Linked DNA regions of Homo sapiens. The protein of the gene in region 2 purifies or fractionates together with the protein of the main gene of each other region. This does not show direct contact. Each region holds a gene or a part of one and is shown on either strand. Other genes may lie near its edges.

Evidence for each region.
Region 1: the proteins of ZNF416 (region 2) and TUBA3C purify together in Homo sapiens (affinity purification with mass spectrometry, with the first as the bait; 2 studies listed by BioGRID). This does not show direct contact.

Annotation. Positions count from the first base shown.
Region 1 is NC_000013.11:19,179,725-19,183,324, forward strand, and holds the start of TUBA3C (tubulin alpha-3C chain), read right to left. Parts: upstream 2,101-3,600; 5' UTR 2,024-2,100; coding exon 2,021-2,023; intron 1-2,020. UniProt on the Homo sapiens protein: Tubulin is the major constituent of microtubules, a cylinder consisting of laterally associated linear protofilaments composed of alpha- and beta-tubulin heterodimers.
Region 2 is NC_000019.10:57,573,280-57,576,051, reverse strand, and holds part of ZNF416 (zinc finger protein 416), read left to right. Parts: intron 1-121; coding exon 122-248; intron 249-2,350; coding exon 2,351-2,772. UniProt on the Homo sapiens protein: May be involved in transcriptional regulation.

The DNA of each region.
Region 1 (3,600 bases), on a different chromosome or scaffold from region 2:
TGTGAAAACTTACTTGCTCTACACCATCCCAGCTGCTAAGTTCCAGAGGTAGCCCTAGAACCTAATGTTTGCCACTACACAAAAATTAGATTATTTTAAAACTTGGAAGCCATGTAATGTCAGTAATCAAACCCACATTATAGCCAGTCACAGTAATTCTCTGAAGAATACATAGCAGTTTTTGATTATGTCCTACCAAAGGATAAGGTAATGGGGTTGGGTAAGGAAATAGAGAGTAGGTCCCAGGTCACTGTGGTCCAAGCCCAGGTGTTCAGTATGTGTCCTCTCTCTGCACCCCCAGATCTACCCTCCATCATTCACCACCCGCCCTGTGCTCTCCGAGGCTGACCCATGAGGACAGCATCAGAGGCCTTCCTTGCTCTCTGGCTTCGTGCTGGTTTGTTCAATGACAGGCAGCCGCAGGAGACCAGGAGGCTGGAGGAGAGTGGCGTCAGGGTACTCTCCCCTTGGCCCCTTCCTGCTCACCTTTCATGGGCGATACAAATCCCTCCATCAAGGCCACACTTTTGGCAGGTGGCCCTCTTCATAAAGTTACCCTCTCAATTTTTCGTAAGCACTCCCTCCCCTCTACCCCTTGAAGCCTAGGAGTGTAATGGCTCCCAGATGTCATCAGTGCTGGGACACTGCACTGTCCTTGGTGGTTTCTTTAAGCCCTGACAAGCCGGATGTGGTGGCTCATGCCTGTAATTCCAGCACTTTGGGAGGCTGAGCTGAGATCGCTTGGGACCAGTTTGAGACCAGCCTGGGCAACTATGAAAAAAAATTTTTTTTTTTTAAACAGAGTCTTGCTCTGTCACCCAGGCTGGAATGCAGTGGCACAATCTCAGCTCACTGCAGCCTCTGCCTCCCGGGTTCAAGCAATTCTCCTGCCTCAGTCTCCCACGTAGCTGGGACTACAGGCCACTATGCCCAACTAATTTTTTGTATTTTTAGTAGAGATGGGGTTTCACCGTGTTAGCCAGGATGGTCTCGATCTCCTGACCTTTTGATATGCCCGCCTTGGCCTCCCAAAGTGCTGGGATTACAGGCGTGAGCCACAGCGCCCGGCCGAAAAATTTAAACATTAGCCAGCTGTGGCAGCACACACCTGTAGTCCCAGCTACTCAGGAGGCTGAGGCAGGAGGATTGCTGGAGCCCAGGGGTTCAAGGCTGCAGGGAGCCGTGATCGTGCAACTGTGCTCCAGCCTGGGCAACAGAGCTGTTGTTGAGCCGTTTCAAAAAAAAAAAAAAAAAGATACTTGACAAACCACGGCCACTGCTATTCAGACTTGGGACTTAGAAATCTATTCTTTATGTGAATGCGTTGGTTGCTTTTTTTTTTTTTTGAGGCAGGGTCTCTCTCTGTCGCACAAGCTGGAGTGCAGTGGCACCATCATGACTCACTGCGGCCTCGAAGTCCTGGGCTCAGCTGACCCTCCCACCTCAGCCTCCCGAGTAGCTGGAACCACAGATCCACGCCTCCACCCCGGGAATTTTTCTATTTTTAGTAGAGAAGGGATTTCGCCATATTGGCCAGGCTAGTGAGGAGCCCCTGACCTCAGGGGATTCCCCGCCTCCAACTCCCGTCTGAGCTTTAATTCCTGATCTGACCAATGTCCACAGCCCTTGCCTCCATCAACAAGGCTCCTGGGGCTCCTCAGTGGTTTCCAATAGGACAGAGACATTTGGAGACCGGAAAGCGGGAGCAGCGCCCTTCTGTCTTCAGGAGGCGGCACCACTGTTTGCTCTCTGGGGGACAGGACACGGTCAATGCTCCCCGTCCACTGACTCAAGGCCGGCAGCTTCGTCTAAAACAAAAGCTGCCATCCCTGCCCTGGAGCCCGCAGACCCAGCAGACGATGCCGTGTCCTCGTGTCCCGCCCTGGGCCCCGCATCCTTCTCTGACCTCCTTTCTGCACCCTGGCCCGCAACAGCATCCCTCCATCCAGCCACCTCAGGAGGCCAACTTCGTCCACCCTCCAGCCTGGGCGTCTGCGGGGTGGGAGTGACCTGGCCTTACCATGTTGAGCTCCTCCGCTGCCGCAGCCCAACGCTACTACTTGACCTCAACCGCCGCTGCAGCTGCGCACGCCCAACGACAGCCTCCCGCCGTGCGCTGTCTGGGATTGGCCTGCTGGTGCCAGGCCACCATTGGTCCGGACGTCCTGGGAGGCGGGCCAAGGCTCGGATCCTAGTTTTGATTGGCCGTTGTGCAAACCACGTAGTGGGGACGCCCTCTGATTGGATGCAGGATTGGCGGGAAGGCAGCAGGCTCAGAGAGGGCCCTCTGACTGGATGCAGGACTGGCGGGAAGGCAGTGGGGTCAGAGGGCAGTGCGTGGGCTGAGACGTTTCCGGGGGTCCTCTGACCGGGGATGGAGCAGCTACTGCGTCTTTATAGGTGGAGGAACATTGCTTTGTAAGTAAGCTCCCAGCCTTGCAGTGGCTTGACCACGAACTTGTGCCGCTGCCTCCTCCCCAGTTGCCCCAGACCGGTTCCTCTGGAGGTGCCTTATTCAGATCTTTGCAAACATGGCCGCCTTTGAGAGGCCTTCACGGCATCTACCCAAGTCACAGCAGCACAGCAATCACCCCACCTTCCCACCCAGCACCCGGGAAGTGGCGGGATTCGATCACTTTTGTGATCTGAAAGGAAAAAGTGAGTGGGTTTCTGTGGCTCACGTCTGTAATCCCATCACTTCGGAGGCAGAGGCGGGCAGATCACCTGAAGTCAGGAGTTGGAGACCAACCTGGCCAACATGGTGAAATCCCGTCTCTACTAAAAATACAAAAACTATCCGGGTATGGTGGGCGTGCCTGTAATCCCAGCTACTCGGGAGGCTGAGGCTGGGGAATTGCTTGAACCCGGGAGGCAGAGGTTGCAGTTAGCCGAGATCGCACTGCAGCCTGGGCGAGACTCCGTCTTAAAAAAAAAAAGAAAAGAAAAGAAAAGAAGAAGCAGAGGTAAAATTAATATAGGTGGAGAGGTTGGGCTGGGCGCAGTGCCTCAGGCCTGTAATTCCAGTGCTTTGGGAGGCCTCCGCCGGAGGATTGCTTGAGGTCAGGAGTTTGCAACCAGCCTGGGCAACGTGGTGAGACCCGTCCTGCCCCCGTTTCTACAAAAAATAAAAAATGAATAAAATTAGCCGGACATGGTGATGGGTGCCTGTAATCCCAGCTACTCGGGAGGCTGAGGCACAAGAATCGCTTGAATCCGGGAGGTGGAGGTTGCAGTGAGCCGAGATTGTGCCACTGCACTCCAGCCTGGGTGACAGAGGGAGATTCCGTCTCACAAAAAATAAAAAACTAAAAAAAAATACAGTTTATTTGGGCCAAGTTTGCGAACTGCAACCTTGGAGATGCAAGTTGCCTTAATATACACTCTAATTAGCAGCAGTTACAAATGGGTTTTTAAAGGAAAAGAAGGGGCAGTTTCTAAATTGTTTACCAAGAATTTTACAAATAGAGACAGAGTCTTGCTGTGTTGCCCAGCCTGGTCTTGAACTCCTGGCCGGAAGGGAGCCTCCCACCTTGGCTGGCCTGGCCAGAGGAATGTATATTAAAATAACATAAGCTATTTATTGGCTCTATATTGTCTTTT
Region 2 (2,772 bases):
GTATCTCCTCTGAGGTGGGGCTTAGGTATGGGGATAAGCAGGGAAAGGATGTGTGGGGGGCATGAACTTGGGGTCCTAGGAGAGAATCTGATCATGGAAAGATCTATCCCCATCATGGCAGGGCTGTGTGACCTTTGAGGACGTGGCCATTTACTTCTCCCAGGAAGAATGGGGGCTCCTTGATGAGGCTCAGAGGCTCCTGTACCGCGATGTGATGCTGGAGAACTTTGCACTTATAACTGCGCTGGGTAAGGCCCTCACACCCACTCTCGTGTCCTGGTCTTCGTCTATCCTCTTTTTCCTCAGAGGCAGCTCTGCCGGACCGTGGGCTTTGCTGACTTCCCCACTGTCTTGGCGTATGTGCTGTGGTGTAAGGAATGAAATCATTGCACTCCTTAATCAGCCCTGACATTTGCTGTCCCAAAATGCACAGGGATGGGTCTGGCTGTTAGGTGTCTTGAGTCAGCCTAATGCATCTCCGTTTACTTCTTCACTTCCTCTTTGGGTGGCTGTGTCCATATTCATGGTACTTTGTGTCTCAAATTCTGCCTCCTAGATGACATTTCCTTTGACTACCTGTGTTAGGAATTTGCAGAATTTTCCTCATCAGTATTTACATGGACCATGAGCTGTGGTTGCCAGAACCTCCTTCAAGGATCTGTGTGATATTAATTTTCTTTCTTGTGTTCTCAAGGCTGCTGACTTGCTCTGGGCCACTGCAGGATACTCACCTGTCCCAGCTTTCCCTTAGGACTTGCTTCATTCAGGTCCCAAGTAGTGGCACATCTAGAGGTGGTGGGAAAGCCCTGGTTGTTGGAAAGGGTGAAGATGGGAATATGGCTTCAGAGGAAGCCTGGCCTCAGTCAGTGGCACCTGGGTGAGGACATGGCATCCAGCCTGTTTTCTAATCTTACCAGGAATTTGCCCTGTGTCATCCAGAGTTTGGTGCTAATGCCACTGGACACATCTCATTTCTATGTTTTCTTCCTCTTCCTTGACACTTTGCTGGCTTATTGCTTCATCTGGGACATCCGGCCTCGTGCTGCCCCCATCTTCCTGCCCTCCATGTGTCACCAGTTTCTCTGCACTGCCCCCCAGCATGTTTTCCAACACTGACCCACTCACGATATGTTGTGAGTTGTGCACATGCCAATTAAATATTTCTTGAACACAAGATCGCAATTGGAATCTCCCACTCACTTCCAATTGCATTATCTTGGGCCCGAATAATGCCAGCTTTCAGCACAGCATACACGTGCCACCAGCTGACAAGATCTTGCCACAGGATTTGGCAAAAGAATAGATTGGAGACCCTGCCTCTCCTTGTGTACTGTACCCCATTCTTACGTCCTGTGTTTGGTGAGGCCTCCCCATTTTGTGATCTTTAGAGGCCCACTACTGCCAAGCAGCCTCTTTCTTATCCTGCTTTCAGTTCCTCAATATTGCTTCAAAGCAATACTGTGAATTCATTCCTTGATGTATATGTGAAGGTGCTTCCCATTTCCTGTTATGTACCCACAGGATTTTAATTAATGGAGGTAGTAGAGTGCCAATACAGAGAGGTTAATGTCAGTGACATAGGAATTTATCACCTGCAGTAGCAAGAGCATGTGAACACCATGCCATGCAGGGCCACATGAGGAAGTGCTCAGTGGTCAGAAGGTAGAAGCAAGAGAGGAGGGAAAATATTAAGCCACAGCCTTTATTGGGGTTTCTGCAGGTAACACAAGACATAATAAACAGTTTAGGATTGGGTAATTTGAGTAGTTTGCTTTGGGGCAAAGGGGCTCACTAGGCGTAGTTGTCTCCTGCCTGACCTTGGGATGACTAGAGCAGAGGAATATTAGCTCCTGAAGCATCCAAGTCACATAGAAAATGTGATTGGGAGTATGGGCTCTGGATTGATGGTGTATTTGTTATGCTCCTTGCTGAGCCCTTTGCTATCTCTTTAAGAGTTGGCTCACTCTGGAAGCACCATTCTCTCCCCAGCCAGCAATGTTTTTTATTTTGTTTTGTTTTGTTTTGTTTTTGAGACAGTTTCGCTTTGTCTCCCAGGCTGGAGTGCAGTGGTGCGATCTGGGCTCACTGCAACCTCTGCCTCCCGGATTCAAGCAATTCTTGTGCCTCAGCCTCTTGAGTAGCACCCACCACCACGCCTGGATAATTTTTTGTATTTTTAGTAGAGCCAGGGTTTCACCATATTGCCCAGACTGGTCTCAAACTCCTGAGCTCAGGCCAGCAAAGTTTTTAAGATGTCAGAACACCAATTATTCAGAAAATAGTTTTTTAAATGACTAATACACTCCCATCATAGTCAACGTGCATTTCATCAGTGTTTCTCTGCTTTCAGTTTGTTGGCATGGGATGGAGGATGAAGAGACACCTGAGCAAAGTGTTTCTGTAGAAGGAGTACCTCAGGTCAGGACTCCAGAGGCCAGTCCATCCACCCAGAAGATTCAATCCTGTGACATGTGTGTCCCATTCCTGACCGACATTTTGCACCTGACCGATTTGCCTGGGCAGGAACTATACTTGACTGGGGCATGTGCGGTCTTTCACCAGGACCAGAAGCATCATAGTGCAGAGAAACCCTTGGAAAGTGACATGGACAAGGCCTCATTTGTGCAGTGCTGCCTGTTCCATGAGTCAGGAATGCCTTTCACCAGCAGTGAGGTTGGGAAGGACTTCCTAGCCCCATTGGGCATTCTTCAGCCGCAAGCTATTGCTAACTATGAGAAGCCAAACAAAATCAGCAAATGTGAGGAGGCCTTT